3 linked regions of the Homo sapiens genome follow. The protein of the gene in region 2 interacts with the protein of the main gene of each other region in a pairwise test. Each region holds a gene or a part of one and is shown on either strand. Other genes may lie near its edges.

Region 1 (7,306 bases), on a different chromosome or scaffold from region 2:
ATGCTATCCAGGTTTTTACCATGTGTACTCCCTGAAAGAGTTGTGTGTGCTTTCTAAAGTTCCGTTTAAGGAAGCTTATTATTCATAGATTTCACTGCACTAAATAAACTGAAAACTTTAAAATGCAAATATTCATGTGCCTACCTCAAATTAATATGATCTGCCCAACAAATCCATTTATTTTACTAACCAATGGATGGGAAAATTTCACACTTTTTAAAAAACCGATGTACCTTTTTATAAAAAATTTTTAAGTATTCCTCAGCAAATTCAGGCTGTGTTGGATTCCATTTAGGACAAAAATAAATAAATAAATAACCAGGTACTCTAAATCTATAAACAGGATGCTTTTTAAAAATCAGGGTAATTATTCTTGCACCTATACATGATTAAACATGTATTGTGGGTGAGTCCAGTGACTTTTCCTCCTAGTCTAATATGAAATAGCAGGACAGATCATCTTATCAAATTGCCAGGATATCTTCTGATAAAGAACCAATCTGCCTGGGAGTTTCAAATCTGAAAAAGCAAATCATAGTTTACTGGAGTAAACTGCTGTTTAAAAATAAAAGAGAAAGGAAAAAAAAAAGAATGTTTCCTAGTTCCAGAACTGACAACTAGAGCCTAAATAAATACCTGGACAAGGGTAAATATGACCTCAAATTTATAACCGCCCTGAACGCAGAACATCAACCGCGACAGCTGTGGCATCAGCGGCGACAGTAATTTTCTCCCTGGCATTCAACCAGAGGGCAGTTGGACTGTGCACCGACTGCACTAGTGGTGGGTAGCCAAAGCTAGCCTCCAAAGTGAACCACGGTCTGGGGCCTGGTCCCGTTTGACCGAAAATGCTATCCAGAACCCCCACCGAGCTGCAGGCCCTTCTTCCTGATTGAGCTAGAGGTGAGTGAAGACAGGGTCTGGGGTAGGGAGGGGCGTCCACGCCAGCTTGCCCATTACCTGCCGGCCTTGGTGATGATCATCTCAGTGCCTATCTCATGAAAGCGCTTCCAGAGCTCGGCTCCCTGCAGATCCACCCGCGGGGCCTGCGGCGAGGGCAGAGGGGTCCCGGGCCGGGCCAGGGAGCGCGCCGGAGACCCCTTGGGGGAGCCTCCCGGTGACGCCAGAGGGGAAGCTCCCTGCTGGAAGCCGTCCTCACAGCCGCCTGGACAGCAAAGGACAGAGAAAGGGAACTGGTGAGGGAAACAGAGGGGAAGCCAGCCGCGGAGACGGGCCCACCTGGTGGCTGAGAAGAGGAAAATGACCGGGAGAAAAGGGGAAGCTTTGGTGCCATCAGGTCCTCCTAAAGAACAAGCCAGTCGATAGACACCCACATTCTGCCTGTCGAAGGGGCGCATTCAGAGCTCCAGTGTGGCCTGCTTGGTCCCCAAGTCCCAAGCCCGGGAGAGGCGCGCGGGCAGCGTCCACCCCACCCGCTGGGCCTCCGCAGGGCCAAGGCCCCAGCAGAAAAGGCTTCACGCCGCCGCCGGGGTCTGGGACGCTTGCCCGACGGAGTCAGAGGAGCTCCCGGGTCCAGAGTCCCCAGTGCAAACTCCGACGCAACCTGCGCCTCGAAGCGCAAGCAGCAAAAGCGCCCGGACTCTGGTCCCAAGAGCCTGGGCCTCCTTAAGCCATAAGCGTCTGCGGCGCCTCGCTTTGGGCCTTCTTTTGGGCCGGGCCGGAGGCATCTTCTAGAAGGCTCTTCAGACCCCGCTTTCGCCAAACTCCCGGCGCCCTGCGCTTCCAGCCCAGCAGAGAAAAGTGTGAAAAGCAAGCCCGCGGTCGCCGTCGGCCTTGGCAGAGAAATCAAGAGGAGAAGGGAAGGGAACCGCTCAACTACCCTTCGGGAAACCAAGTTTCCAAATATGCCGCCCTCTTCCTGGTTTGCACAAACGGTTTAGGGCATTCGTTCCGGTTTCAGGGTGGGGTATGCCGTCGCTCCCCTCCTCCCCGCCCTGTGCTTTTAAAAGTTAGGAAACAAAAAAGAGCACCCATTGGCTGGAACCCCAAGGGAGGCAGATGCAGGAAGCACAGAGCTGCACCGCTAGGCGCAGCAAACAGCCGCGGCCGAAGGCGCGGGTCGCCGAGTGGGCGGCGGCCGCCCGCGAGGCGAGCCTGGAAGCAGTATCTGAACCGTCTGGAGGGTGACCAGGTTGCGCGGCGAGCTTTGCGACTGACACGGCCAATGCGCTAGTGGCTGAGTGGCCTTGGCCATGTAGGGACGCGGCGCGCACGCACACCCACAGACTCGCAGAAGTTCAGGTTCGCGCCGGAGAGAAGTTATAGGCAGGAAGGGGCCCACTCACCCGCGGCTCCGCGCTCCAGGTCTGCGCCACTCCGAGCCGGCCCAGACGTCGCCCCAGCCGGCGGCGGGAGCGCAGCGCCTTCGTCTCCCTCAGAAGAACCCTTTTCGCCCGCGCCGCCGCCGCGGCTGCAGCCTCCGTCGTCCACGGCCCCCGCCGCCTCTTCGGCGCCCAGTTTTCGCCGCTTCTTCTGAAGCTGTTGCTGCTTCTCGGCGCCGATCAGCGCCTCCACCGAGAAAGCGTGCGCCTTGAGGCTTAGCATGCTGCACGGCGAGCCCCTTCGCTTCTCGGCCATCCCCCCCGCCCCGCGCCCGCCCGCCCCTCTCTCATATACACTCACGCGGGCACACGCGCGCTCTCGCTCTTCCCCCACCAAAAACTAAAAGGCTCTCGGGGCCTCCCGAGATCTGCCCCCTTCCCCACCGCGGGCAAAAAACAGATTTGGCGTTTCCGCTTTCTCGCTTGTGTTGGGATCCAGGAACCGGCGACGCGCCGGCCAAGTCTCCTTTCCTGGGTCTCTCTCGCGCGCTCTCTCACTGATGCACTCCTTTGCTCCCACCCCTTCCACCTCCTCCTGCTGCTCCGAGGTCTGCCTCAACTGATGCGCCAGAGAGGACTAACATGGGTAAAAAACACTCTGTGGACACAAATTAGGGATTGTAATTGAAATTTGTTGCCTTGATCTGTCAGCACTTCCAGGCAGGAGAGCGGTGGGAAGAACTTGCTCATTAGTGTCAATAAAGCGGCGGGGGCGGAGCCCGGGTCCCTGTCCATCACCCAGACGGCCGGCCAATCAGGAGGCGCCGACTCCGCGCAGCCCGCGCCCACTTCCTTACAAGGTAGCGAAAAACCAGGAGTGAAAAGCGCCGCTGTCTGGCTTGGATGTGCCAGCCACACGGACGCTGAACTCTGTCTCTCTGACGTCCGTAGCTGAGTCCAGCCCCGTAGTCTCCAGCTTTCCTCACCAGGACCTGGAAAGGCGGAAGTTCCCGGCTTTAAACTAGACGTTCAACAAGTTAGAAAATCAGGAATCTTTCAAGGTTCCGTAAATTGCCGTCCCACTTCCGTATCGCTTAATGTTGCTACAACTCAGAATATTGGGAAGCTGGGAAGAATTCGCAGGCCCCTCCTTTCTCATTTAAATGTTCCTGCACTCAGTCTGCGCCAGATATGGCTTAGGCTTATTTAAACTTTACTCCGTGATTTTTTTCTTAGGGGATACCAGGTTAAGAAATATGTAAATCCTTTAGGAGTGCAAAATGTTACGTTAACGCTCAGTCCGTCATATAAATGTCAGAAAAAGCACGCCCTTTCCGCAGCCCACCTTTTCTTTCAAAGAGTGGTAGTTATTTTAAAACGTAGGTCATGGGATTTTCATTCTGTACGTCTTTAACGATATGGACAACTTTAAAACCCCTTAAAACTTCGCAAAATGAAATAAGTATGAAGACGCAATAAAATTCCCCATTTGAAAAACTTCTCTGTGATTTAAGTAAGTTTATATTTGTCCTACTGTTGACAATTTACAATCGTTACTTCAGGCTTTTAAGGAGTCCATTGATGTATTTAAAACAAATTTAATAAAATCAGTGCTTTTTAATTAAATGACACCAAACATATATATTTGTACAATTTGTTTTGTAGTTTCAACTCGACTTTTTGTTAGGATTAACAAATATATATATATATGTTTGGTATAAATAGAGCAAATCTCTTGTGGAATAAAATTAATCGTGCATATTACTCCATCTTTTGTATAAAATACACGGCAGGCCGGGCGCGGTGGCTCACGCCTGTATTCCCAGCACTTTGAGAGGCCTACGCGGGCGGATCACGAGGTCAAGAGATCGAGACCATCCTGGCCAACATGGTGAAACCCCCGTCTCTACTAAATAAATAAATAAATACAAATAGTAGCTGGGCGTGGTGGTGCACGCCTGTAGTCCCAGCTACTCGGGAGGCTGAGGCAGGAGAATCGCTTGAACTCGGGAGGCGGAGGTTGCAGTGAGCCCAGATCGCGCTACTGTACTCCAGCCTGGCGACGCAGCAAGACTCCGTCTCTGTCTCTCTCTCTGTCTCCATATGTGTGTGTGTGTATATATATATATATATATATGACAAAGGAATTTTTTCCTCTCCCTCGTCCCTCGTTTAATTCAATCTCCGCAACCGTTGGCTGCCCTTTTATCTCTGACTTCTCTGTAAACTTTCAGTAGAGTAGCATTTGGGGGTAGATCCGCCACTGAGACTGATCCTTTTATTGTAGAAGAGAACGCGCGGTTCCTGGAGGCCGGACACCACAGCGGGAGTAGGAACCTGGCAGGCGATGAGCAGAGGCACGAGCAAGCCGCCCAGCCAAACCTGGCAGCCTTGAGGTCAAAAATGATTTTGTAATATCCTTGCGGAGGAAGCCTCTTTTAGACGCCTGAGAAACAAACTCAGTTGGGAGGAGGTGTTTTGCATTTTACAAAATGAAGGCTTTGCGACCGGTTTAGAGCTGTGTGGTCCCTAGTGGGTCTCCAAGCTCCGGGGTACCCTAGGCCGGTATTACATCATTAAAAAGAAGCGCAAATCCCATTTCTGAAGCTTAGCCGAAGGCAGGCGCCGGCAGGGAGAGCTAAGAGGCCGCCTAGAGAGTTTGGGCCGGGAGTGGGAGTGGGACAAGGCGGGAGCTAACTTAGCTGGAGTAGACGCCAGAAGAAGTTCCGTTCAGCTGAGGTGCCCCGCCCCAATCCCAGGCTCTCGGGGACCCCAAGAAGGGAGCTACCCGGTGCTTCTCCGAGCGGTCCTTACAGCTTTGGAGACTCTGCTGCTGCCCAGGGGTGTAGTCGTCGGAGCCCTCGGGCCTGCTGGGGCTCAGCAGGGGTAGTGGGAGCCCCTACCCTGGGAGAAACTGCCAGGGACAAACACTGTTTGCTGACGCAAAGCCTGTTCCGCAAAGGAGTTCTCCCTGTATATGTCCTGCAGCTCAAACTGATTTAGAAAGGGATACACAGGCCTGCAAGGCGCTCTCGGGATCATACAGCCTCACGCCCTCTTCTTTTCCTCTGCCATTTCTTTATGTCTTTCGCCTTCACCCTGGGCAGCAGACCCCAGCAGGCGGGGAAACCCGGGGACTGGTGTCCGCATTGCCGAAAGGCTGGAAAGCAGAGCCTCGTCTACATCCACGATGTTTCTAGAACGTGGCCCTTAGAAATAATTCAAGTGTGAGTAGGGCGCCGAGGACAGGACAAGGCGTTTGCCCCCTAGTCCTGCTACTGGCTAAGGAGAATCATAGCAGTAGAGCCGCACCACTGCTGCCGCCGCCTCCAACTTGCGTTAAGTTCGGCTCAGGCTACTGGATTGGGCAGGACCAGCTAACCCAGGTCCCGAGGGGCAGTGTGTCACAGACTGCAGCCCACTCCAACCTCGGCTCCTGGAGAAGGGGCGTCGAATCTCTCTTGGGCATGGGAGGGAAAGACATTCCGAGTTGGCTGGGCGGAGTGGCAGCCTTGAGAGTGACGAGTGACAGCAAAGCCTCGTCCTAGCAAGGCCTTTTACCAACAGCGCGGCATGCCCTTTCGAGGAGAGCGCCAGGCCCTCGCACTTTGCAAGTCAAGAGAGCAAAGAAAGCGGGGACAGGGCGCGTAATCGCAATGTCCGGTCGCGCGTGTGCACGTGTCTGTGTTTGCATGTGTGCGTGAGCATGTGCACCTGCTCAAGTGTAAATGTGTCTGTTGGCAGTTGGGGTCTAAGTACCTGAGAATGTGTGTCTTCTGTTGCTTTAGGAGATTAAAATGTCTTTTCCCAGTATTGAGCTACATTGAGGAAACAAAACTGAAATAAACTGTCAGGCCTCTCTCAAGACCAGCCGGATTCTATGTTAAATAAAAGTCAGCCAGAGGAGAATATTGTCAGAATGAATTAGTCTCAAGGACTTGGGGAGAGAGAGAAGGGCAAAAGATCCTTGAGCTCCCAGATCTGGGACAACGATATACAGTGGAATCCATGTCCTGCCGGACAGCAACACTAACTGGTGGGAGGGGGCGTGCAGGGGCGGGAGATGGACTTTTAAAAAGCATATCCGGTCTCTTCTTTATTTTTCTTGGTGCAGTTTAAAATTGGACAGTTCCGAAATAGTGCTTTTTTGTTGTTGTTGTTTTAAACTCATTCTCTGTCGGCTTCCACTCTGCTTTTTAGCCTGGAGCCTGTTTACATAGCATTGATACATGGCCAGTTGTGTATAGTTTGCTATTTCATCTTACCTGATTTATAAGATACTTACATTTTATTTATAAACAATTGTTTCTTTTTTAAGTTATAATTGTTAAAGCTCTATGCGTCCGGTCTTCATTCCTTCGAAAGATTGATTTTTTTTCTTTTACACTTGACACTCGCTGTATTTAACCCCTATATTTAATTTCTCAGACTCGATAAGGTAAGCCCTGAGTCTGTTCAGACAAGAATCTGTTCTTTGCCCCTGATCTCAGGGCACATCAAATGGTCCCCGAGTCTCCAAATAATCCGGACCCAGACTTCTTTGCCACACATAGAGAAGTTTATTATTAGTAAAAGATGAAGTGAGCTAGAAGCAGAAATGGGACGGAGAGTATGGGTGGGCAACGGCCAAATCCAAACACCAAGAGGGGTACTTATTTGGCTGCGTTCCTCTATAGTTTAATCTGGGAAGGAGCCATAGCCTAATTGGAGACCGTGAACATCAGCCTACGCTGAGTCACCAGGCAGCGCCGCACAAATGGGCTAGGGCTTCCCCTTTCCGCGATTCCTGTCCCTACTCTTTCCCACTCTCTTTCTTCTCTTTGCACATACTTTTCTTCTCGCCTCTCCTTCGGATCTGCGTTAATGAAAATATTTTATCTTGTACAAGTTTATAAAGCCTACGGTAGTAAATTCAGGCGTCCCAGGGCTCAAGGACTGCACTCTTGCGGATTTCTCTGCCGGGTCTGGTGCTGCAGATGCAAACCCAGGCCCCGTGAACAAAGCGATCCGGAGCTGCAATTCCT
Region 2 (7,769 bases):
GATGTCCTTCCTGCAGCTGAGCTCAGGGCTGCTGGGCAGGGGTAGGAGCTGTGGCCCCAGCCTTGGGGCTCATGAAAGCCTCTGGCAGAGAGGATGGCCTGGCAGCGGGCGGGGTTTCCCTGCTGGGAGGGAGGCAGGGCCCGACTCCTGCTGCAGTGGCTCTGGGGACGGGCAGCTGGCGGCCAGCGGGGCGGGCTTAGTGGCAGGCCCTGGTCCTCGCGCTGGCGCTCAGGGCTAAGCTGGGGCTCCTGCCCTCTGCTGCAGCCGACTCCTCTCTGTAGCCCCCCTCTGGGCTGTCCTGGGACTTCGCCTCCCACGCAGGCAGCCTGCAAGGTGAGGGGTGGGTGGTGCCCAGCACAGCAGCAAAGACTTTGTGGGAACCTTGAGACCTGAAAGAACAGGAGAGTGGGCAGTGAAGGACCACGCAGGACAGTAGCCAGGGCTCCATGGGGAGGGGCTGGGGCCGGTGGATGGCGCTGGTCTTCCAAGGCAGAGGCCCCCCGACCCCGTCAGAGCCTCCCAGCGAGCCCGAACACTGGGGAGTGGCCTGGGCCGCAGGGTGTCTGGGGTCTGGGGAGGAGCTCATTTGGCCGGGACAGCTGATGGTGGGGTCTGGGTGGAAGGGTGGTGCTCCGTTACCTGTTGTCACTCTCCTGGCTCTGATGGTGCCAGCTGCTGCCTCAGCCGGATTTGAGGACTCAGCCCCTCTGGGACCCTCCGCCTGCCATGGGTGAGTCATGAGCTGAGCTCTGATTCTTCTCCAGGCGGGCGTGAATCACTGGAGCTGGGGGAGAGAAAGCGCGGGTCCATGTGAGAGCTGGCTCAGCAAACTGCCCCTGCCTCCCACCCGGCCCACTCTCCCCAATGCCCCCTTCCATGATGCCAGCCCCACCCCATCCCTTTGGCTAACTTGCTGGGGGCCCAAGCCTCAGTGGGCTCTCCTAGAAAACAGCCTCCGGATCCCGCCAGCTCTCAGATGCCCCACAGCCGGTACTGCCTTGGGGCAGGGGCTCACCTGAGGGGCCAGGAAGCACCGGGACATCAGGTCTGCTCTGCTGCGTGTGCGACTTCTACTCTCCCCTGGGAGGAGGGGGCCGCGCTGCCCGAGGCTGGCCAGCTGCCCTGGGAGGCAGGGAGGGCGTCAGCTGGCTCTGCGGATGCCGGGAGAGGGCGGCGGCGCCGGAAGTCGAGGCTCCCTCAGCATTGGCTCTGCCCTAGCTTCTGCTCTGGGTGTCCCATGAGCTTGGTGGCCGCTGGCCCCTGCCATCCGGACACTTGGTTTTCTGGATGTCCAGAGGGCCTGGGTGTTGTAGCAGAATGAGGAAGCTGGGGTGTTCTGTGATGGCCTGAGAGTGTGGAGGGTGGGGTCCAGGCCGGAAAGACAGACGGAGGGAGGGTGATGGGTGGAGCCCTGCAGGGGGGAGGGCTCTTTGCCGCTGGGTGCGGTGCTCACATCTGGATGACACGAGTGTGTGCGAGTCCGCCCGGAGCTCGAGGGGGCACCCAGCTGGACCAGGGCTTCCCCTGCAGGAGTCAGCCCCAGCTCAAAAGTCCTGGTGGGCAAAGCCACAGGCTGGATGTAGTGGGCAGGCTGGGGGCTCCGGGATGCCCTCTACTCGGGCTGGGTCCGGTCACTGGCCACGGACTCGCTGTTGGGGGCGGGCGTGAGGGTCTCCGCCTCATCCTCCACCGGGAGGTGGGGGCCGGCCGGCTCGGCCGCCTGCTCCAGGTCATCCTGCACCTCCATGCCCCTCTGGATGAGCTGCTCCAGGGTCTTGGGCAGGGGGTGGCGCAGGAAACGCTTGAGCTTGGGCTGCAGGGTGCCCACCACGTACTGGATGATCTCCTCCTCGTCCGCGTCCACGTAGAGCGTCTGGTACAGGTCCCGCTTGCGCCACAGGAACTGGTCCAGCGGCTCGCCCTGCTTCTGCGGCAGGTCCAGCTCGCGCTGGATGGCCTCTCGGGACAGCGTGCCCTCGCTGTACTGCAGGAACTCCTTCTTGAACTCCACCCAGTTCTTCACGGAGCCCTGCTTGAACTCCCACCACTTCTTGGCCGGCCCGTTCATGTGATTCTGGATCTGGGACAGCCAGTACTCCTCAGAGCCGCCCACCTGCCGCAAGTACTCCTCTAGGTGGCTCAGGAACTCTCGAGGGTCCTCGAAGATCTGCGTGTCCACGCCGGGGCTGGGCTGCCCGTCCTCGCCGGGGACCCACGGCTGGTACTGCTGGGCCTCGGCGGGCTCCTGCCCGGGCAGCTCGCCAGCGGCTGGGGGCGGGGTGATGGCGTAGGGGCTGACGGTGTAGTCGTAGCCGTCTGCCTCGTGGCAGTAGCTCTCGGGACCCCCCACGCCCACGGAAACGGTGTGGCGGGCTGACTCGCTGCCCACCGGGTACTTGCCGCCCGTGGACTCCAGGCGGTCGGCCCAGCGCTCCAGGCGGTAGAACACCTCGCGCCACACGTGCATCTCGCGCTTGACCCAGCGCTCCAGGTTGGCGATGGTCTCCTGGCAGCGGCACAGGCAGGCCTTGATGGACTTCTTCCAGCGCTGCGAGTCGCTCGTGGGCACGTAGCCGTCCAGGTTGCTCTCCAGCTTCCCGACCGACCGGTGCAGCCCCTTCAGCTCGCGCTCCACCTGCTTGGACACCTCGGCCAGCAGGTGCCGGTGCGTCCGCCGCACGTGCTCCAGCATCTCGGCCCGGCACTTCCCGATCTGCAGGATCACGTTGGGCTTGGCCACCTGCCCGCCCCGCGGCCCGGGGTAGGCGTGGAGCCCGCCGCTGGTCCGGTGGTCCAGCTCCATCTGTGCGCAGGTGCTCCGGCAGGCGGCAAACTCCTCGGGGCGGACAGAGGGTGGTCCGGCGCTGGGGTCCGGCGGCCTGGGTCCCGTGCGGAGCTGCGGGGAGCGCCTGTCTGTCGCTGCGGGCCGGCGGCGGGGCCGGCGGAGCACGCCCGGGGAGGCAGGTCCGGCTCGGCTGCTGCGGAGGGAGGACGCCGCGCCCGAGCTCTGCGCTGAGTCCTGGCCGCCGGCTCTTTATGCAGCCAGCGAGGCCCGTGGGCGGCCGGCTCGCCGAGCCCGGTTTCTCATTGGCCCAGCCGCAGGCTCCCCGCCAGCGCCCCGCCCGCGCCCCTGCAGGCCCCGCCCTGCGCCCACTCGGCTCCCGGGCGGCAAGGGACGGGAGGTCCCACCCCCTGCACACATGGCGGGGCCAGGATGACTAATCCCTCCGCTCCGTACCTCCCACCCCGGACGGCGGGGCTCATTCAGCCTGCGGGGACCGAGGGACTGAGCCGGGCACTGGGCGCCCCTCCCACGCCCCCTCCCGGGCGCTGGGCGGGCTGTCATCTGCTGCCTCCCAGGGTCCCAAGGTGGCCTTCCTCCTCTCCACTCGCCTCTCTCTTTGCGGGGCTGGAGGGGGCTGGCGCTGGCCACTGCTCTCCTGGGTCCTCACTGCCCCTGACCCCGCCCACCCAGCTCTGCAGGATGTGCAGCTGAGCCCGGGAAGGACCCTCACCATCAGCCTCTGTGCCCAGGGGCTCAGCAAGTCTCCATGTGAGCTCCCAGATGTGGCTTTGAGCTCCCACTCACTCCTGCCCGGGTCCTGAGTCCAGGTCTTGGGCTCTGTGTGAGGGACGCACAGCCAGGCAGAGGCTCGCTCTGCCTGGCCCTGGCGTTGGTGTGCATGGGTGACAGGGGCCCACGTGGCAGTGACTGGACAGGGCTGCCCCATGCCCCCATACGCAGGTCTCTGGTGAGGCCCAATACTTTTCTGTGTTTCCAGGGAAATCTGGCAGCTGCTACCTGGGGGGCTGGGGTTTGGAGGACATGGAGGGGACATTTAGCCCCCAGTGAAGGGAATTGGGCCCTGAAGACCCTGGCTATATCAAGAACCTGGCCAGAGGCTCCAAGACTTCTAAGGGGATGGAAGAGGGGAGGAGAGAGGGAGACAGGGAGGGAGGTGGAAGGAGGGAAAGGAGAAGGGGAGGGAGGAGAGGCGAGGAGGGAGAGGGAGGGGGGCCGGTGCTGGCAGCACAGTGCCATCAGGAGAGGCAGAGGGAAGCCAAGCACCATATAAGGAGCGGGGCTCCGGAAGCCGAGACTCCCTCGGGAGGGAGGTCCCTTCTGCCTCCCTGGCAACCTGGCGGGGGTAGGGACGCCCTTCCTGAGTTACTCCAGTGCTGGCTGGATAGGCATGGGTCTCAGGTCCTCTGATGTTACCCAGGCAGGGGTGACACACACCATTCCCCACAGCCAGAGGGCCATGAGGACATCATCGCTGACAATCAAGACATCTTGTTCCTGCTGCCAGCTGCCCTTTCCCTCTCTCAGACACACACATGCTGCACACTCACACCCCCACATACACACTCATAGCCCCCACTCTAACCCCACCCCACACACTCATGCCCTCACTCACAGCCCCCACACACACTCATACCCCCCACTCATAGCTCCCACATACACACTCATACCCCCCACTCATAGCTCCCACATACACACTCATACCCCCCACTCACAGCCCTCAGCTCCCCCCAGCATCCCCTGTCTTATTCAGGCACTCAAGGGCACACAGGTGCCCACTTGCTGGAATCCCCCCTCCCTGCCAACCCTCTGAGCCCCCCCCCAACCGGCTCTCCCGGGGAGCCCTCTCCCAGCCTCAGAGCCAGTCTGTCTCCTCCTTCCTTCCGCCCCTGGGGGGGAATGTCTTTCTGGCAAAAAAACTCCCCAAAAATGGCTCTCCTGGCATTTCTAATTAAAGGTAAGTGGGCGGACAGAGAAGGGAGGGCGGAGGGGCACCGCGGAGCTGGGAGGGGGAGCCAGGCAGAGAAGTCTCCAGCACAGGGACCTTCCCGCTTCTCCACTGCGGAATCCCAGGGAGAGGAGCTGGGTGGGCACATGCGGGACGGGCAGACGCCAGCAGCCTTGGGTGAGTGCAGCCAGCGGTCACCGAGGGCCACATGTCCGGGTTGGGGCCAGCCTGAGCCTGTAGGTGTTGTCTGGGTGCTGGGCACTGACCGTGCATGTGTGTCCATTGTGAGAGCCAGCACTTCAATGACCAGGGGCCAGCCCCGCCAGGGTTTACAAGCCCGTGTGGCCTCTGACGTCCCCGCCAGGGCACAGCTCTTAGGCCTCTGGCCAGCAGTGGCCTCCAGCTGCCACCCCCACCCAAGGCATCAGCAAGCTGACAAGGAGGCAGGACTGGGGACACGTGAGCCAAGGTCATAGGTGGTGCCGCTGCCTCAGTTCCCTCACCTGTGTGGAGGGAGCCAGGCCTGGAGAAGGGTGAGTGCCCAAGGTGGCCCGGTGAGCAAGGCAGGGCTGGGCAGGAGCCAGGCCCTTGGTGAGGAATCCTGGCGTCCTCTGCTCAATGCCCCGTGGCCCATCACCACCCCTGTCACCTGCTAAACAGCAAGCCAGAAGTGGCCAAGCCGAGACCGGTGGGAGAGCACAGTGCCTGCCCTGGATGGCACGAGGGCAGGCAGCGTCGGGGGTGCCACGCGGAGCCCCGTCTTCCCCTCCCCAACCCCCTCCAGCAGGGTCTGCAGAGGCTGTGAATGCAGGCCTGAGCTGACCGGTGACAGGCAACAGCCGCAGCTGCCAGGAACGCTTAATCGCTGCCCAATTATCGCCCCAGAAGCCCTCACCAAACCCCCGCACTGCAGCCTCGGGAAAGGAGGCCAGGCTGACTCCCATCCACCTGGGGCGGGGGCCTCTCCTGACAGGGGCCTGCCCTGCTCCTCTCTCCAGCCCACCCCCACCCCGTGCCCGTCCCTGACAGCCACTGGAGCAGCATGGCTTGGGGATGCAGGTGGGGGAAGGAACAGGGGAAGGGGGTGGGGGCTAGACCTGCACAAGGAGATTGGGAGCACCTGGGGGATCCCCACTCTCAAAGCCAACCTGGTCTGCTGCTGCGCAGGTCTGACCACTCTGAGGCCCCACCTGCCTGAGAGGAGGGGTCCTGCAGGGGAGGGTGGGGTAGCCCATGACCCCCAGGTTCTGTTCACGGTTGAGATCTCCACCAGGCTCACGACAGCCTCGAAGGACCTCTTAGTGCTGGTTCCTGAGCCCCCACCACCTAGGTTCCCAGAGGCGTGCGGGTACCTGCTCTGAAAGGCAGGGGCCACCCTGTGCCTTGGGCCTCCCTTCTCCTTCTGGGGTGCCCAGCCGCCTCTGCTCCTGCCTGATCAGAGCAAAGGGAGTCAGCTCTCTCCCCGCAGCCCCAGACTGTCTCAGCCCTGGCTGACCCACTCCGGCAGGGCCTTTCTGGGTTGCCAGGAGCGTTCACAGGGCAGCTGCTGACCTGGGGCATCCTGCTGCTCCCCCAGGCTGGCCCTGCTGATCTCGGGTGCCGGCAGTTAGCGCTGCTCAGCAGGGAGAGGCAACCACAGGCCCCTTCAGGCCAGAGCTCACACCCACCCCCACTCACACACATGCGCAAACACATGGGCACACGCAGAGGCACACACCTCCCCCATCTCCCCTGCCTCCAGGCTCTGTCCTCTTTGGAAACAACCCAGAGGGCCCCCAACTCTGCCTTGGCCCCCCACATCACTGTCTTCATAAAGGCCCTTCCTCACCTGCCCACTGCTGGCCACACACACCTGCCCACCCCACCCTTTGCACACATTCCGGGGCTCCTGCTGCCCTTCTGTGTGGGCTGCGTGGAGTGAGGAGCCGGCAGCAGAGAAGGAATGAGGCAGTCCCAGGGGTTGGTTCGGGCACCCGCCCCCCACATGTGACCACTCCCCAGCCTTGTGGCCTCATCTGTCACCATCTACTGCCCGGTGGGGCTGGAAGAGAAGAACCAGGCTGCCCTATGCCCTCAGGGTGCCCATTGCTTGCCCAGGCTGCATGGCCAGACCTGGAGGCCAGCCTCTCAGCCACCTGCTCCCACCGGGTGTCCCTTGCTGTCCAGCCCAGGGCTCCACAGGCTGCAGGAGCTGCTGACCTCTGACCTCGCTGGGCTCCCAGGCTGGACTCCCACCCCAGGTATCCTCTTTTCCTGTTGCCTCTTCCTCGCAGGCACAGGGCAAGGCTGTCCCAGCTGCCTGGCCTGGCTGAGTCCCTGCACCACCCTACAGGTGGTGCCCATAGGTGAACACCTGAGTGTAAGCAGGGCCTGGTCCAGAGCAGACACTGGCGAGGGGTCTGAGGGCTGGAATGGTTCCTGTTCCATTCCTTTCTAGTCAGGAAACATTGGACAGTTGCTCACCTGAGCCTCAGCTTTCCATCCGTAAAGTGGGTGGCAATGCCAAGGCCTCGAGGGGTGGCCGGGAGCTCCGGGGCTCCAGGAGCCTCATCCCTGGCCTCGTGCCACCTGGTCTGGCGAGGTTTCTCCCAGCCGTTCCTGCCGGAGCCTCTCGTCAGTGCCAGTCTGGAGCCTGAGAAGTGGCCGGGGCCCCGCCCTCAGCTCCTCAGGAGAGGTTCTGGGGGCTTCTTCGCCCTGCCCACCTCCTCTGTTCTCTGAGGCCTGGCCAGCGTCCGCCCCCAGTGTCGCTCCTGCAGTGGTGGCACAGACCTGGTGGCGAGTTGCAGGGGCAGTTGGCGGATATGGGTCCAGGCAGCTGGAGGACACCAGGGCCCTGCTGTCTCCGTCCTGAGGGCCACCTGCAGTGGGGACGGGCCAGGGTAGGCAGAGAGCAGAGCTGAGGATGAGGGTCCCAGTCCACCTCCAGAGCATGGGGGGGTGCACAGCAGGCCAGGACTGAGCCTGGGGAAAAGACCAAGGAGGCACAAAGGACTGAGGTGGGAAAGTAGAGGGGCAGAG
Region 3 (7,022 bases), about 120 Mb from region 2:
TTCATACATGGCACCACATCCTGCTGTTCTGATTCTGGGCACACAAATAAACTCACAAAAAGGCCTCTGTGTTGTGTATTACAGTGAAGCTGAGTTAGAGCTGGACTGCCCGGCTCTGCCGCTTACCAGCTGCTGACCTGTGCTCTATCTTCCTAATCTGTGAGATGGGCATAGTGATGGGCTGGACTCCAAGGGTTATTGTGAAGATTAAGTGAGTTAACACATGTAGAGTGCTTAATTAAGATGGTGCCTGGTACAAGAAGTGTTAGCTGTGTTATCAGGAATATGCAGGGCGGGGGAGACTGGAGGAATATGACTTTGACACTTTAAGGGTTTTAGATTCTAGGATCTACCCATGCCTTGAATAGGATTCGCTGCATTCAAAATGGGGAACACAGCAGAAGTCTCAACCCCAGCTGAACTGTTCATCTTCTGCCGTGTGTGATTTCTGCGAAAACCAACCATTGAACTTAAGGACATTTACTGGAATGTCAAGGAGTCATTCTGTCTCCTTTCTTACCACTTTATCTTGGAGCTTGTGGATTTCATTGGCTCCACCCTTTGAGAAGCTGCTAGAAACAAAAAGTCAAAAGTCAAGAAATCTTGACAAGACATCCATTTTTTTTTTTTTTTTTTTTTTTGGCTGTTCAAGCCTTTAAGGGTATCTCAATGCAAAATACAAAGTTGGCAAGTGGATCTGGGAAGGGCGTGATATTACTTTTAGTCCTTTAAAATTTTTCTCTTAATGTTTGGTTCCATTTGGATTCTGGTAGTTGAATGCTGCCGAGATGATAGGTTGCAGTCAGTAGGGATAGGTGTAGTTTCATCAAGGGCCTGGCTTCACAATGAACAGTCAGCGAATCTAAGAGCTGAGTATGCACACCACTCTGTGGTAGCCTAGCTGTTGAGCGTGCTTGTCTCAAAAGACAGGTGTAAATCAAGGAACTACTTTGCACGGAAGAGGAGGAAGACGGGAAGCTGAAGGAGGCCCCCAGATGGTGAGAGGGGCATTACAAATCTAACTGTATCAATGACAAGGTGAACGAAGAGAAACCAACAACACTACGATGGTCATAATATAGCTAAGTGACTTGTCTGAAGTTTAAGACTGTTTGAACATAGTATGGAGAAACAACGTATTTGAGAGCACATGGCAAGGTGGTAAGATTATTGAGGTGTTATTATAAATAACAAATTATTGGTCAATTTCTTTTTTTTTTCTTTTTTTATTTTTGAGACAGAGTCTCCCTCTGTTGCCCAGGCTGGAGTGTAGTGGCGCGATCTCGGCTCACTGCAACCTCTGCGTCCTAGGTTCAAGCGATCTCCTGTCTCAGCCTCTTGAGTAGCTGGGATTACAGGCACCCACCACCATGCCCAGCTAATTTCTGTATTTTTTGTTTTTTTAGTAGAGATGTTGGTCATACTGGTCAGACTGGTCTCGAACTCCTGACCTCGTGATCCCCCCTCTTTGGCCTCCCAAAGTGCTGGGATTACAGGCGTGAGCCACCCCGCCTGGCCTATTGGTCAATTTCTTAGGACACATGTGATTCTGAAAAGTTGTAGTAAGTTTTTTTTCTTATATCTTATTACATCGAATCCAAAGTCTTTTGTTTTCCAGAATAGATATATTTACATAGTTTCCTGCTGATTACAAAAGTATGATGGTTTATGGGACTTAGAAATTGTTTAAAAATAGAGAGAGAAAGTATGACAGTGTGGTAATATTTTTAAGCCAATATTTTAAAATAGAAATGTGGAAAGTAGAATGAAACCTCAGTAGGATTTCCAACCACAGGAGAACTTCTAGGAGGCCACTGTGCACTCTCGCTTTATGGTTTCTCTTTCAAGGAGCCATGCGGTAAAGTCATATAAATGAAGGATCCTTTGTTATGAACCTAATGACCTCTTCATCCCCCTAGTTTATCTGGTCTGTCCATTTAGATTTTATTAAACTAGGTTATCTGGAAAAAGCACACCTAAAACTCGGTGACCTTCCAGAATGTAGATGGATGTTCTCTCTTGCACCTGCCCTGATTTTCATGGCTCTAGTAGGTTATCTGGAAATTACATTATCCTTTTGTGAAGAGGAAAGTACATAATTTTGTTTATTTAATGCTACTTTTTAGGGAAATTGCAGAAAATGCATGGTGGTCTAGTTTTTATTTCTTCCTTTTTCTTCCTTGAGCATGGCTCTATTTTGGTTTGGTTTGGGATGAGTTACTCTGTGACATATCAAAAGTGGTATTTTCTTTTGAAATAGGTACTTTGCAGAGAGCCTTTTAATTTCTTCCTGTGACTTTTTTTTTTCTTTCTTTTTTCAGCCACACAGTTGGTGGTTTGTTAGGCTCTGGGGTAATAATGTGTTTGCTTAGTTGGGAGCTGGACAAACCTCTGTGAACTTTTTTTGTTTGCCTGAGATTGACCTGTATAAAGTTAGGGTTTGTTTTCTTTTTTTTTTTGACAGAGTATCTTTAGAAATTACAGGATAGAGGTTATACAAACTCTTAACAAAGTGTGCCTCAGATTTTCTTCTTCTCTTTTCTCTCTGAACTGAAAAGTGATACTGTGTTTCCTCCTAGCTTTTTTTTTTAAACCCGTCCTAGCCAGTGTCCACACATTTTAACACGCTGCCTGAATGTGGGCTCTTTCTCTCTGCAGGTTCAGTGAACAGCATTTTGGACAGGACATTTGGTGCCAGGTCTGAGTAGCCAGTTTGCTGAATTATTGTCCCAGTCAGCCAGGATTGTGAGCTGTTTGGGAAGTTTCGTGGAAACGCCCAAGTGCCAGCACAGGTGGAGGGACACCTGGAGGCCAGTTTCAGGAACTTTTGCCACAAGTATAAAAGACTTCAGAAGTGCAAAGATGCTGAAACAGATACTGTCGGAGATGTACATAGATCCTGATCTACTGGCAGAGCTCAGCGAAGAACAGAAACAGATCCTGTTCTTCAAGATGAGAGAGGAACAGATCCGACGATGGAAAGAAAGAGAAGCAGCTATGGAAAGAAAGGAGTCCCTGCCAGTGAAACCCAGACCAAAGAAAGGTAAACTTATCCACGTTTCTTCTGTGGATGTGTTGGTAGAACAGCTCCTGGCTTGCTTTGACAATTTCACACTAGTCACAAGCAAAGCAGGTGCAAGTTCCAGTTTGGCAGATGAATCCTAAATGTTATTGAGAATCTAATAGTGCAGTATGTCCACCTGAAGTCTACACACACACACACAGCATTCACCATGGAGTTGCATAGCTATGAGGAAATCTTTTACTTGAAACCAGACTAACCTGAAGCTGTATTAAAAAGTCACCTATGAGGTTTGATTTGAGGGGTATTAAGAAAGGTTTCTATCTCCTTTATTGTTACTGGTTCCTAATATGCTACTACTAGAACACAAAGTTCTTGTGTCAGTATATTTATAGCAATTGTGTTTGCATTTCTTAGACCTCAGAGATTTTTCTTTGAGGTATCTTTTTAGGGAACACCTCCTGTTAAAATGTAAGGAATTGCTATAAGGAAAAAAATCATAATACTATCTTTTTTTAGTGTGAATGAGTTTCTCAGATGTAAACTTTTCCTCGTTATCAAAGGAATCTCTGGTAGTTTGAGAGGGTTCTTTTGAGACCATGGGGGAGGAAATCTTTGTACATTAAGACTTAAAGCAGACAAGGTGCAGTGGCTCATGCCTGTCATTGCAGCACTTTGGGTGGCCGAGGTAGGAGGATCACTTGAGTCCAGGAGTTCTGACCAGCCTGGAAATATAGTGAGACCTTTTCTTTAGGAAAAATAAAAAATTAGCTGGGCATGGTGGTACATGCCTATAGTCCCAACTACTTGGGAGGCTGAGGTGGTGTAATTGCTTGAGCTCAGGAGATCGAGGCCACACTGAACTGAAATCACACCTCTGCACTCCACCCTGGGTGACAGAGTGAGACTGTGTGTCAAAAAAAAAAAAAAAAAAAAAAAGACTTAAAGCATATACACATACAGACACAGAAAAATACACATTGTCCACCCTCCTCACTCCGTTCTCACTAACCCCCACACCCCCGCCTTGCTGTTTACATGCGAAGTCTGTCATGGGTGAATACCAAAGTTGTGAAAACACAGCACACTTTTCAAGGTCACTTGCAGAGGCATCTAAGACCGTCTCTTTTCATGTTTCATTAAACCAGGAAAATAAAATTTTGTAAAATCACATATGGTTTCAAAGATTGAGAAAATGAATCTCTCTTGCATCCCTGGTATATGCCCAGGTTCACAAAGGAGGTCAGTGTAGCGTCCTTTACTTTTTACTGTCTTTTATTAAAACTTTTTTCCAGTGATGCCTTTATCATGACAAGGAAATAAACAGAAATATGTCATTTCCTCTTGTTATGATCAATACAACTATTTATGAAACACCTCCTGTTTCAGACACTATGTGAAGCACATTTATGCATATAATGCCTAACCTTCACAAAACTTCTGCAAAGTCAGCAGTGACAGTCCTGTTTTACAGATGATGAGACTTAGAGAAGTTCATTTTTTTTTTTGCTTGTTTGTTTGTTTGAGATGGAGTCTCACTCTGTCGCCCTGGTTGGAGTGCAGTGGTACAATCTTGGCTCAATGCAACCTTCGTCTCCCGGGTTCAAGCAATTCTCCTGCCTCAGCCTCCCAAGTAGCTGGGATTACAGGCATGTGCCACCACACCCAGCTAATTTTTGAATTTTTAGTAGAGGTGGGGTTTCTCCATGTTGGCCAGGCTGGTCTTGAACCCCAGACCTCAAACGATCTGCCCACCTGGGCCTCCCAAAGTGCTGGGATTACAGGCCTGAGCCACTGAAGCTGGCCATGAAACTTAGATAAGTTGAGTAATATATGCAAGGTTATACCACCAATAGATGCCCAGTTCTGTTGGATTTTACATTATTCTGCACTATCCAAAATACAACTTTTCCTCCAACAAATAACATGGCCAAACTGAAACATAACTCTTTTTCTTTCTAAACTGGTTTATGCACCTTCTTGGATTCCCCAGTCAGAGTTTTTCAGATATAATTGGGTCTCTTCTGGGCACCATGTTCACTGTGAACATAACATATATTAGTGTGATGGGGTGACCTTGGGGACTAGCAGCCAAAGGGTTCTTGCCACTAGAGTCAATGGCCCAGACTCTGTTAGACTTTGGGTTTCTCGTGTTTGCTGAATTGGTCTCCTTGTGATGACTTAAAATAATAATTTCAGTTTCTTTGCTTACATTTCTCGCTTGTAGGGTTTTGAATCTACCTCTCAGAAACCCTGTGTTAACTTTGTTAGTCAAATGATCATGAGAAAAGTATGTTAATATAAGTGGGGAAAGTTCTATCAATATCTCACGTCAAAAGTGTATTACTCCCTTAAATTGAAAACTTGGAAAAATATATTTTGCATTAAATTAGTTCCTCTTCTGACTACAGAAAGGGAAAAAGTTACTCCCACTTCCCCTAAAATCCCATCACTTCTCTTTCATCTTGCGCTGTCTTTGAAGATAAAGCCATAGACCGTCCAAAGCAATGCTGTCATGGCTGGTGCTGCCAGAGGTGCTTATCTGTGCTGCAGACCTGCTAAGCCCATGACCCTTGTGGGTTGACAGGTCACTCGTGCATCTGATCCCTGAAGGCTTGTGCTCCCTGCCTCCCCTTCTCCCGCCTTTCTGGTTAGTACTGAGCTAAGTGCTGCTTTTTCTTAGCAGTTCTTAGCCACACGGTGGTTTTGAAGGTTGTTCATTTCATTAAAAACATCATAGGCCACCCCTGCCATTCCTTGACCCCCTCTAGCTTATCACTTAGAAGTTCCTTCATTGTCATCTGGTCATTTTTCACTACGAATACACAGACCCCTGTGCTTAGTGTTTGGGGATCATCACTAAAATTGTTGTGTATTGTGCATCACAGAAACTTGTCTATTATTCTTTTTTTTTTTTTTTTTTTTTAAAGACAGAGTCTTGCTCTGTCTCCCAAGCTGCAGTGCAGTGGTGTGAGATTTCAACTCACTGCAACCTCTGTCTCCCTAGCTGCAGTGCAGTGGTGTGACATTTCAACTCACTGCAACCTCTGCCTCCCAGGTTCAAGCGATTCTCCTGCCTCAGCCTCCTGAGTGACTAGCTGGGATTATAAGCACCTGCTACCATGCCCAGCTAATTTTTGTATTTTCAGTAGAGACAGGGTTTCACCATGTTGGCCAGCCTGGTCTTGAACTCCTGACCTCAAGTGATCCACCCACCTCCGCCTCCCAAAGTGCTGGGATTACACGCATGACCCACCGTGCCCGACTTGTCTACTTGTTAGTAATCTGAAGGCTGAAGTAGAAGGGGCTGAAAAACTATCAGCATGTGAATTTAACTTAGTACTATATGAGAAGATCATTTCTGATTTCTGTAGTGGGAGAATGTGATACTTAGGGAGAGACGTATGGATCTACTCTGCTTGCTGGGGTAGCTAGAGGTCTACAGCCGCACCGTCCAGTGCAGTCACCACAAGCCACATGTGGCTCTTGAGCACAGGAAATGAGGCTAGTCTGGATTGAGGTGTGCTATACATGTAAACTACCGGATTTCAAAGACTTGGTAGAAGGAAAAGATAATGCCACATTAATAATTGTATATTCCTTATATATGGAACTGATGATATTTTGTATATCTTGGGTAAAGTAAAATACTTAATTTCACCTGTTCCTTTTGATTTTTTTTTTTTTTTGAGACAGAGTCTCTTGCTCTGTCTCCCAGGTTGGAGTACAGAGGCATGATCTCAGCTCACTGCAACCTCTGCCTCCTAAATTCTAGCGATTCTCCTTTCTCAGCCTCCCAAGTAGTTGGAGTTACAGGTGTGCGCCAGCACACCCAGCTAATTTTTGTATTATTAGTAGAGATGGGGTTTCACCATGTTGGCTAGGCTGGTCTCAAATTCCTGACCTTAGGTGATCCACCTGCCTCGGCCTTCCGAAGGGCTGGGATTACAGGTGTGAGCCAGGGCACCCGGCCTCCTTTTGATTTTTTTAATGTGGCTAC

What was found.
Region 1: the proteins of ARC (region 2) and TBX18 interact in binary tests that used the Homo sapiens proteins (3 or more experiments, as listed by UniProt).
Region 3: the proteins of ARC (region 2) and SH2D4A interact in binary tests that used the Homo sapiens proteins (3 or more experiments, as listed by UniProt).

The regions. Positions count from the first base shown.
Region 1 is NC_000006.12:84,761,584-84,768,889, forward strand, and holds the start of TBX18 (T-box transcription factor TBX18), read right to left. Parts: upstream 3,016-7,306; 5' UTR 2,599-3,015; coding exon 2,307-2,598; intron 1,166-2,306; coding exon 961-1,165; intron 904-960; exon of another isoform or gene 758-903; intron 1-757. UniProt on the Homo sapiens protein: Acts as a transcriptional repressor involved in developmental processes of a variety of tissues and organs, including the heart and coronary vessels, the ureter and the vertebral column.
Region 2 is NC_000008.11:142,611,469-142,619,237, forward strand, and holds the start of ARC (activity-regulated cytoskeleton-associated protein), read right to left. Parts: upstream 3,012-7,769; 5' UTR 2,804-3,011; coding exon 1,613-2,803; 3' UTR 1,016-1,612; intron 785-1,015; 3' UTR 640-784; exon of another isoform or gene 390-639; 3' UTR 1-389.
Region 3 is NC_000008.11:19,316,686-19,323,707, forward strand, and holds part of SH2D4A (SH2 domain-containing protein 4A), read left to right. Parts: intron 1-2,658; 5' UTR 2,659-2,862; coding exon 2,863-3,043; intron 3,044-7,022. UniProt on the Homo sapiens protein: Inhibits estrogen-induced cell proliferation by competing with PLCG for binding to ESR1, blocking the effect of estrogen on PLCG and repressing estrogen-induced proliferation. May play a role in T-cell development and function.